Linked DNA regions of Homo sapiens. The protein of the gene in region 3 interacts with the protein of the main gene of each other region in a pairwise test. Each region holds a gene or a part of one and is shown on either strand. Other genes may lie near its edges. The genes, in order: CCDC183, CAGE1 and BFSP2.

Region 1 (3,650 bases), on a different chromosome or scaffold from region 3:
AGGAGCCCAGTCCTGAGTTGGGTGCTGTGCCAGAATCAGGGACTCAGAAGCTCAGGTGTGTGCAAGTGGAGTCCCCTGGCCCCTCTGTGGGACACACAGGCTTGTTGGCAGTGGGTATACTCCCAGCTCCCAGCCTGGCTGCAGCCCGGGGCCTTTGTGAGACTGGGGTGGGTGGCCCGCAGCCCCGGAAGCCCGGGGCACCTGATGGAGCTAGGCTTCTGGCGGAACTTGAGCACGGCCTCCTCCAGCTCCAGCTGCTTCACCAGGGCCTTCAGCTGCACCCGCCACTCCTCACAGTCCTCCATCTGCAGCTCCAGGTTCTCCTCCGTGTTCCTCTGGGCCAGGAAGCGGCTAGTGATGTCCTGGCCAGTCCGGGGGAGAGAGAAGCAGGTGTGGGCCAGGATGGTGGGCAGAGGGGGCTTCACAGAACTGGTTTCTTCTGGGCCCCTCCTAGACGCTAGTGCACTTTCTCTGTGCTCATTCACAAGTGTGATCACAGCTCACTGCAGCCTCAACCTCCCAGACTCAAGCGATCCTCCCACCTCAGCTTCCTGAGTAGCTGGGACCACAGGTGTGCACCACCACACTTAGCAGGGGTGAAGCGCTTTGTGGATGTCATTGCACACGACCCTAATGGCAGGCAGAGAGGGTAGATAACCCCATGTAGAGATAAGGAGATCATCACTGAAGGACGTTGTGTCACTTGAGTCACTTGTCTGACAGTGGACAAGCTTGTGTCAGGGCAGTGGTTAGGAGCTCAAGGCCTAATAATAATAAACGCAGATACACAGATGGGATTAAGATAAAAGGATTTGGGGCGGCCGAGGGAGTTGCCACTTTGTGTGTCCATTTCAGAGTGCCTCAGACCCCAGCCCAGCTCAGCCACCCTCCTGCCATGCTCCGGGAGTGCCAGGGAGCATTACCCAGACGTGAGAGGCTCAGCCACCCTCCTGCCATTCTCTGGGAGCGCCAGGGGCATTACCCAGACGTGAGAGCACCGTACAGCACTCTTGACCTTCTCCACCACAGCAGTCACGCCCGACTGGTATTCCATTTCTGCTGTGGAGGTCTCTTTTCTCCTCACTGGCAGAGCAGAGGGGAGGGGCAGTCAGCATGCAGGGATGGCTCAGGGGCTCTGTGTAAGGCTGTCAGACACCTCTGTACCTGCCCAGCTGCTGGGGCGGCCACCCAAGACACAGGCATCCTTCAGAGATGCCTGCCCCCGCCCCAACCTGCTCCCTCCTCAGCCCAGCCCTGCAGGGACGCCCCAGGCAGCCCCAGAGCAGAGGTGGACCCGGAGTGAGTGGCGCAGCACTGTGAGCACTGTGGGCCCGGTGGTGCTTCTCAGAGGCAGCTTAGGGGTCAGGATGCTCATCCTCTGCAGAGTCACTGGGGACTGGGCCCTTGGTGCAGGGCCCTTGGGTGCTGGGGCCAGCATCTCTGAGGCCACATTTGGCTACAGGCTCTCAGCCTCTGGAGGGAGAGGCAGGGACCTGTCCTTCCCTTCACCCTGGCGACCACATGTCACACCTGGCCTCAGGGTGACTTGATCCGTTGGCCTGAATCAGTGCCAGCCTCTCCTTGGGACCCTGGCTGGGGGCAGGTGGGGAGCTGAGCGCTTACATTTCAGGGTCTCCGTGCTCATCAGGTTCGAGGGGAAGTCCAAGTCCATCTGGCCCTGATGGGAGGTGGGGGCGGGGAAGGGATGAGACATCCTTGGCAGGGAGTGGGCCCTGAGTGGTGGCCCTGAGCCTGTGTCCACCCAGCTGTCATGGGGATGGGCAGCCAGCCAGGCCCTGGCCTGGGGCTTACCCGGCGGTACTTCTCGCTGGTCTCCTTCGTGTGGATCTTGTCGATCAGCTTCTTCTGCTGGTTGAGCCGGTTCTCCCTTGCCCGGCGCTCCTCGATGAAGGACGCCTCCCTTTGCCTCATGTTCCTCTGGGGACATGCGGGTGGGCACAGGGTTGGGGAGCTGTCTCAACAAGGCCCCTAATGGCAGTAAAGCCAGCGGGCGGTTGGCCATGCTCACCTTACTAGACTTTGGAACTGCATCCCCGGCCAATGGCCACACCCTTTTCCTAAACCACTTGTGCCCGTGGCCCCTCAGCTCACGGCCCTCCTTGCCCATGCCTCAGAGCATGTGCCAGCCCAGACGCTCTGCTGCCCTCCAGCCGCTGGCCCCCAGCTGCCTCCTGGCCAGGTCCACCTAGAACTCACGGAAGTGCATTCAGCCTGCCTGAAGACAGATTCATCCTCTTCCCCAAAACCTGGCCTCTTCCAGCGTGCCCTTGGGCAGCTAAAACCGTCATCTGCTAACCCCTGCTCACGCACCCCAGACACTGCTCTCACCCTCGCCACTCTCGTTGCCAGCGCTTAGTGGGGTTGCCTCTTGAGGAGTTCTCAGCTCCGTTGCTCCTGGCCACCCCTTCTCCACCCCGGGTATACCCAGGTGATCAGCGCTTCTGCCCTGGCACCTTCCAGTCCCTGCAGCCTGAGTACACCCTTTCTGAAGCACAGACCTGGTCACATCTTTCCTCCACCTCCTCCCAGGGCTCCAGGTCAGTCCTTGGGCCCCCAGCCCAGCCGCCTCCGTGGACTCCTGGGGCCTGTGCCTCTGCAGCCTCCACTGCCCTGGCCACACGCTGCTCCATGTATCACACCCCTCCCAGCCCAGGGCCTTTTCCCAAGTTGTACCTCCTCCTCCCTAGCCCTGGCCACACCTGACCTTTGCGGGTTCAATCCCTCAGCCCAGCTCAAGCACTGTCTTCCTGGAAAGCCATCTGCCACCCCACCTGTCTCTGCTGAGCTGGCTCAGGGGCTGTGTGGCATTTCTTCATGGACTACTGGATGAGTGCCACCCACTTCAGGAGGACAGGGTCTGCCTGTCCCGGTCCCTGCTGTATCCCCAGAGCCTTGCAGGGACCTTGGCACAGACTGGGTGAATAGGTGACCCCCGCCCTGGCCCGGCCAGTTCTCTCCCTCTCCTCTACTTCATGGCTCCTGTGCTGGATGGGACCTGCTCTGTCCAGTGGGTGAGCAGAGCAGGCTGGCCGGGCTGGCCACTGGATCCTTCTGGGGATTGTAGGCAGTGTGGGCATGGGGGTCTCCTGAGAGACCCTGGCCAGAAGACACAAGAGAGCCCGCCCTGGGGGGCCCCAGCCCTGGGCCCTGAGCTCACCTTGACCCCATCCGAAGATCCAAGAGGGCTGGCCCTGGGGGGCCCCCAGCCCTGGGCCCTGAGCTCACCTTGACCCCATCCGAAGATCCAAGAGGGCTGGCCCTGGGGGGCCCCAGCCCTGGGCCCTGAGCTCACCTTGACCCCATCCGAAGATCCAAGAGGGCTGGCCCTGGGGGGCCCCCGGCCCTGGGCCCTGAGCTCACCTTGACCCCATCCGAAGATCCAAGAGGGCTGGCCCTGGGGGGCCCCCAGCCCTGGGCCCTGAGCTCACCTTGACCCCATCCGAAGATCCAAGAGGGCTGGCCCTGGGGGGCCCCCGGCCCTGGGCCCTGAGCTCACCTTGACCCCATCCGAAGATCCAAGAGGGCTGGCCCTGGGGGGCCCCCAGCCCTGGGCCCTGAGCTCACCTTGACCCCATCCGAAGATCCAAGAGGGCTGGCCCTGGGGGGCCCCCAGCCCTGGGCCCTGAGCT
Region 2 (3,650 bases), on a different chromosome or scaffold from region 3:
CTCTGCTAAAAATATAAAAATTAGCCAGGCATGGAAGCGAGCACCTGTAATCCCAGCTACTCTGGAGGCTGAGACAGGAGAATCACTTGAACCTGGGAGGTAGAGGTTACAGGGAGCCAAGATCGCGCCACTGCACTCCAGCCTATGCGAGAGAGCAAGGTACATTTTTACACACAGTGTTAAAACTGATCCTTTCTAGCCAGGAGTGCAGCCAGGGGACGTGACCAATTCAGTCAGAGGCAGGACAAGAGCCCAAGGAACCTGACTTCTAGTCTAATGCATCTTCCACTTACATCAGTATGCAAATGATTCAGTTGTCATTCATAATGACATTGACAGCACCCTGCATATAAATGACAACTTTCCTGTCTTCATGAAAATGCCTAGCTCCCTTTATTAAAAAATAAAAGATTGTAATGTCCCAATATCTTCATGAGTGTTGTGCTAAACGTTTGATAGTCAGTGACATCTGATTCCACTAAATAGGAATTTATAAAAATACATCAAAGATATATGCCTGTTTTATATATCTTCAGTGTTAAAAGACTGAAATAACCATCTTAATGCTGTTTAGACTAGATTTAATAAACATCAAATAATTATCAATACATAAATATGCTATCACGTATCCCTAAGTTTATAGTCACATGATTTGACTTACCAAAAAACCAAAATATTAAAATAACAAGCTATTTGTTACATTGTTGTTTAATATTGGGACTCTGTTAGCATAGTTTTACTAAAAGGGAGCCAAATACATGCTGGGGAAAGATACTAGAAAGCACATTCTACCTATGTAATGAAATATTCTAATAGCAGAATTATGTAACAATGTGCAAATACCTTTAGAAGAAGCTTGTGATGTTTGCTTGAAGTATTGATGCCTTTTTTATTAATACAGAACGAAATAAAGAATTTTGAAAGGGAAAATGAGTATGAATCCACACTTTGTGAAGATGCTTATGGCACACTAGACAATTTGTTAAATGGTAAGTATCTACTTGTTAGCAATATGCAAAAGAGAGAAACTTTTTTTTGTGTTCCGTGATAGTAACAATAGCCAGGTTTTGTGCTAAGCACTTTATATACATCATCACACTTAATCCACAAAAAAATCTTATTGAAATAAGAATTTTAAAAAATTGAAGTAAGGGCTGTTTTTATCTTCATTTTACAGATAAGGAAAATAAGGCTCAGAGAGTAACTTGCCCAGGATTGTGTAGCTTTAAATGAATGAGCCGTGATCAAGTCTCAGACTCAGACACAAAAATTTTCTACTATACAAGTATCCTTAAATGTGTATTGAGGTTGGGTGTGGTGGATCATATCTATAATACCAGTGCTTTGGAAGGCCAAGGCAGGAGGATTGCTTGAGCCAGGAAGTCCAAGGCTGTTATGAGCTATGATCATGTCACTGCACTCCAGTGGGCAACAGAAGGAGAACCTGTCTCTTAAAAAAAAAAAGCGGGGGCCAGGCACGGTGGCTCACGCCTGTAATCCCAGCACTTTGGGAGGCTGAGGCAAGTGGATCACCTGAGGTCGGGAGTTCAAGACCAGCCTGACCAACATGGAGAAACCCCGTCTCCAGTAAAAATACAAAATTAGCTGAGTGTGGTGGTGCATGCCTGTAATCCCAGCTACTTGGGAGGCTTAGGCAGGAGACTCCCTTGAACCCAGGAGGTGGAGGTTGCTGTGAGCCGAGATTGCACCATTGCGCTCCAGCCTGGGCAACAAGAGCGAAACTCCATCTCAAAAAAAACCAAAACAAACAAAAAACACCAGGTACAGTGGCTCACACCTGTAATCCCAGCTCTTTGGGAGGCCAAGGCAGAAGGATTGCTTGAGTCCACTAGTTTGAAATCAGATTGGGCAATAGGACGAAACCCCGTCTCTACTAAAAATACAAAAAATTAGCCAGGCATCGTGGTCCATTTTGGAGGCCTGGGTGGGAGAATTACCTGAGCGCGGGAGGCTGAGACTGCAGTGAGCCGAGATCACGCCACTGCACTGCAGCATGGGCAACCATAGTGAGACCTTGTCTCAAAAAAAAAAAAGAGAGCTGTGTGTTGATTTAACCCCAAATCTGTTATTCTAATCCTAAATTGACAGATGAAAGCTATTTAGGATTTAATCATATAATGAGATACATTGATCATGTTTTTGGTTTTGTTTTTGAAATGGATCTCACTATGCTGCCCAGGCTGGTCTCAAATTCCTGGGCTCAAGTGAGTCTCCTGCCTCGGTGTCCCAAAGTGTTGGGATTACAGGTATCAGCCACCACACCGGGCCCTACACTGATCATGTTTATTAAAGTAAATCTAAATGCTGTATACAAATGTCTTTATTTTTAATACTTGCAAATAATACTAAAATGAAAAGATTTGACAAGGCTTATTGAAATTATGGAATTTAATACATGCAGGTGTAAGAAAAATAAGCGCTGCCGAGGCAGGCGGATCACGAGGTCAGGAGATCGAGACCATCCTGGCTAACATGGTGAAACCCCGTGTCTACTAAAAATACAAAAAATTAGCCGGGCATGATGGTGGGCGCCTGTAGTCCCAGCTACTCAGGAGGCTGAGGCAGGAGAATGGCATGAACCCAGGGGGTGGAGCTTGCAGTGAGCCGAGATGGTGCCACTGCACTCCAGCCTGGGCGACAATAAGTGCTATAAGGATTAGAAAGGAAGAGAAGTAATTATCATTATTTGCAAATATGTACTTTTCTACATAGAAAAGTCATAAGCACCTACAGATGAGCTATTAAAACTAATAAGAAAGTTTAGAAGAAAGCTAGATATAAAATTAATATTAAAAAACCAATAGCATTCAATGCACTAGCAACAACAAATGTAAAACAGTAATTCTTAAAAACTTACTATTATCAGTAACAGCACAAACTAAGGTACCTAAGAATAAATCTAACAAAAAGTGTAAGTTTCCATTAAAAAACATTATAAAACTTTCCTGGAGGCCATAAAAAATAATTAAATGTTTCATGTTCAGATTGTAAAGATGTCAGTTTTCCTGAAGTCTATTGATTAATGCAATTTCATGTATCCTACCTTAATCCTAACATCCCCATTCAGAAGTGAAAAAGTTAAAAAAAATACCCAATACAATTTTGAAAAAGAAGATGTGGAGACTTACCCTGCTAGATAACAAGAGTTATTAGTTATAGTAATTATAACAATGTATTATAGGCAGAAGGGTAACAAACCAGTGGGATAAATAAAAGACAAAGTCCAAAAGTAGACCCATTTATATATGAGGACACCTGGTATTTGATAGAGGTGTCATTATAAACCAGTGGGGGTGTTCATTTGGTTGTGCTGGAACAGTTGGCTCTCTCAATGCAGAAAATGATTAGAACCTTACCTCACACCAAATACAAAATAAAGTCCACATGGGTAAAGGCCTACATGTGAACTGCAAAGTTCTAACTTATAAAAGAAGTGTAGAAAATGCTGTATTAGTCTGTTTTCACACTGCCATAAAGAACTACCTGAGACTGGATAATTTATAAAGAAAAGAGGTTTAATTGGATCACAGTTCCACATGACTGGGAAGGCCTCGAAACAGAATCACGGCACAAGACAAACAGGAAGCAAGGCATGTCTTAAATGACGACAGGAGGGGCAGGGGAACTGC
Region 3 (3,650 bases):
GTTTCCTTCTTAGAGATATTTTATCATGTCAAAGGAAGTCTCTAATCATCCTCATTATTCAGATGAGAAACTGAGATGCAGAGATCAATGAAGACCTTGGCTCAAGATCACACGGTTGGTAGATGGCAAGCGGCAAGGCTAGGGGCTGTCTGGCTTCAAAATCCCCAGTCTTTGCATCACATCTAATTTTCCCTAGTTTTCATGGAAAACTGACCCCACCCCCTGTCTTCCATTTCCCAACATGGAACTCACATTTTAAGAGATCTTAAGAGGTTTAAGAGTGGCCGAGTGTGGTGTATGAGAGGGGCATGGAAAGAGGCCCTGAGTGCCACACCCTAGTCTCCCTCTGTTTTCTTTAGCAGTTCTCTTGCTTTCCAGACACATTCAACTTCCAGAAACCACCTTTCTTAGAAAGCAGCTTAGTGACTGGCTGGGCACGGTGGCTCACGCCTGTGATCCCAATACTTTGGCAGGCCAAGGCTGGTGGATCACCTGAGGTCAGGAGTTTGAGACCAGCCTGGCCAACATGGTGAAACCCTGTCTCTACTAAAAATACAAAAAAAAAAAAAATAGCTGGATATGGTGGTGGGCACCTGTAATCCCAGCTACTTGGGAGGCTGAGGCAGGAGAATCGCTTAAACCCGGGAGGCGGAGGTTGCAGTGAGCCGAGATTGCGCCACAACCTGGGCAACAGAGTGAGACTCCATATCAAAAAATAAATAAATAAAAATAAATAAAGAGGCTTAGTGGCCACCTGTATTATATGAACAAGACCCTTGGGAAGCAGGCTCATGCCTCCTTCTCCCCCTCTCCCATCAAAATATTTCTTCCAATCATATACCTCACTCTTCCTAAGAGGAATGAATCTCTCTAACGGACTTTTCTCTGGTAGCTACATTTCTAACCATACTGTAGTGTCCCTTATAGCTTGGCTGACAAAGAAACCGCCCCACTGGCCTGCTCTGACCAAACAAATTGCACTGATTAAGAAACAGGCTGAGTGACTTTTTCTTGGGGAAATGTGTTCAGGCCTTTGCAGATTATGATTCTGCCCCCATCACCTACTTTCCAGGGATACCAGGTTGTAAATCATGAACAACAAACCCTGTTGCCTTTATTTATTCTCAGTGGAGAAGGATTAGTTCTTGTTTTTTTTTTCTAAAAAGAGAGCCTTCTAGGACCACAAGTTCTGTGGGAGAAACCTGGCCCAGATCTGGATTGCCTGAGTTTCCAGCATGTTCTTCAAGTAGGCAGATTCCCTGAGTATGGGCTGTCTCTGTGCAAGGGACAGAAAGACGGGCTGTGAACAGCAGGAAAAATAGTCAAATCAGGTCCATTTTAAACTCTAATCCTTTGCCTTTCAACAATTTTGATTTCCCATTTTCTCCAGCTGACAGCCTTATCCTTTGGAGGTATAAGCTGCAGTTTTCTCCCATGGAGACCTAGACAAATGTCCTGGCTCCTTAATTTAGAACCTCTGCGCTCCCCTTTCTTCCTCAGGCAGCTTCATTCTCCCCCTGGCTTCAGCTGTTCCTTTTGTTTTGACACCTGGTCTCTGAGGGCTGCTCCTCTGACCCCACTCTCCTTTCATCTGCAGCTCCGAGGCACAAGGCTGCCTTATTCCAAGCTTGTGTTTGGCCTATTTGAGGATGAAAGGGCCTGATGTTGCCATCAGAGCCTATTGTCAGCATCGTTCATTTGGTAAGAAAAGTCAGGAGCACAGAGCAAGGCTGGAGAGGGAAATGGCCCAGGTCTTCCTCAGCCTCTGTAGTTGCCACCTGGGGTTTTTCTGTCCGTTTTCACCACTTAGCGAGGCTTGGAGGTTCTAACACAGCTGAGGAGTGGGAGGAGAGAGGTTTGGAATTGAAACAGAACTTCATATGCATGAACCCTAACTAGGACCAGCTATATAATTTGCGGATCCCAGTGCAAAATGTGGGGCCCCATGTTCAAAGAGCAGGAACAAAGTGCGATTTAAGTTACTCAAATATAATGCTTTTTCCTTTCTTCTGTCATGTTTCAACTTGTTATGGTAATTTTTATCTGCTATTTAATTTCCACTCCCTGGGGAATGGGGATGCTCATGCAGACCTTTATAGGCATCCAGAGGCCTCGCTCCATGATTCTGGGCATGTGCATACCCCACCAATGGCTGCGGTACCTTTCTTACCGGCCATTGGACCGATGTACCATGTCCTGCTGGTGGGGTGGGGTGATAACCCCCAAGAATATTACGACCTCAGTGCCACCTGTAGGTACCTGGGTTGGGGGTGAGCAAGAGGCTTGTCCTCTCCCTCCAGTTGCTGCCACCCAGGGGCTTGGAGCAGGTGTCAGAAGGGGCTCCCAGGGGCAGAGAGGTGGGCCAAGAACCTGTTGTAGGGAGACAGAGGGAGGTAGGACCATTCAAGAGCCCCTGGTCCATACTCCATTGTCCCACAAGACTTCACTTTTAAAACACAAATTCAAAGATAAAACTATTGGCTGGGCACGGTGCCTCATACCTATAATCCAAGCCCTTTGGGAGGCCAAGGCAAGAGGATCTCTTGAGGCCAGGAGCTTGAGGTTGCAGTGATCTCTGATGGCATCGCTGCACTCCAGTGCAGCATCCTATGAGACTTCACTGGTGGTGCACCCATGGAGCCAACCCTGGCCCCAAACTTACATAGTGATATAAGGATGAGGAAGATTCCCCCCTCCCCAGGACGGCCTTCCTGATTCTGCCATGGTGTGAGCCCTCCTGGCACCCTAGTTTCGTGTTGCTTTCCATGATGTGACTCTCTGCACAGTGACAGCAATTGTTTCCCTCCTCCTGGCTCCTCTTCCTGGCTTTTCTGAAAACCTGTCTTTGTCTCCTCTGGGTGGGGGTGAGACAGGCTGTGGGGAGATTCCAGGGGACAGGGGACCCCCACTCCCCAGAATGGCCCCAGGAGCTTTCTGTGCTAGCTGGGGTGGTGATGGCAGGGAGGAGAGCCTGTCTCCTTTCCAACTCTTCTCCCCCTCTGAAAGCAAGAGGAAATGTTGTTTCCCAAACATTTATGGAAATTGTTGCCTGCTCTGACCTTCCCCACTGCTTGCTCCAGCCTGATCCAAGAAAGTGCCACCAAAATGGACATCCCCACCGTGCTATTGAGTGACTGAGGTCTCTCTTGGATTCTCTGTTTGGGGCCCAGGCTAAGGAGGTCGAATTTCTCTCTAGGTGCCAACTTGGGGCTCAGTTGCTGAGAGCTTGCTCTGAGGCCTCAGGCCCTGCATGGGCCCTGAGGAGTCACAGAGGGTTGCCATGGAACTGAGCTGCAGGACCAGGAGGAGTTCTGTGGACAAGGGGGGGAAGAGGCAGCTGCAGGTGGAGAAACAGGAGGGGTAAGGAGTGCTGTGAGGAGCACGGAACACCAGAGCCCAGAGTCTGGAAAGGTGGGCATGAAGCCCCAGCCAGAGTGGCCTAAGTGAGGGCAGAGGGAGAGAGCTCTGGATTTCTGGGGCCCAGGACCGCAGAGTGGCTGCCTCTGACCCCAAGTGAGATGAAGGCAGCGTGTTGTGGAAGGACTGGGCTGGGAGGTGGCCTTTCCTCTAGGCCTGGAAAGGGGTGGGGGCCTGGTGGGGGCCTCCTGCAGCTCCACGAGGCCAGATTCACTGAAAAAATCAGGAGCATT

What was found.
Region 1: the proteins of BFSP2 (region 3) and CCDC183 interact in a two-hybrid assay, tested with the Homo sapiens proteins (one large-scale study listed by BioGRID).
Region 2: the proteins of BFSP2 (region 3) and CAGE1 interact in a two-hybrid assay, tested with the Homo sapiens proteins (one large-scale study listed by BioGRID and IntAct).

The regions. Positions count from the first base shown.
Region 1 is NC_000009.12:136,802,790-136,806,439, reverse strand, and holds part of CCDC183 (coiled-coil domain-containing protein 183), read right to left. Parts: intron 2,514-3,650; exon of another isoform or gene 1,939-2,513; coding exon 1,813-1,938; exon of another isoform or gene 1,679-1,812; coding exon 1,624-1,678; exon of another isoform or gene 1,084-1,623; coding exon 983-1,083; exon of another isoform or gene 856-982; intron 391-855; exon of another isoform or gene 363-390; coding exon 202-362; intron 56-201; exon of another isoform or gene 1-55.
Region 2 is NC_000006.12:7,383,124-7,386,773, reverse strand, and holds part of CAGE1 (cancer-associated gene 1 protein), read left to right. Parts: intron 1-901; coding exon 902-989; intron 990-3,650.
Region 3 is NC_000003.12:133,403,037-133,406,686, reverse strand, and holds part of BFSP2 (phakinin), read right to left. Parts: intron 1-3,650.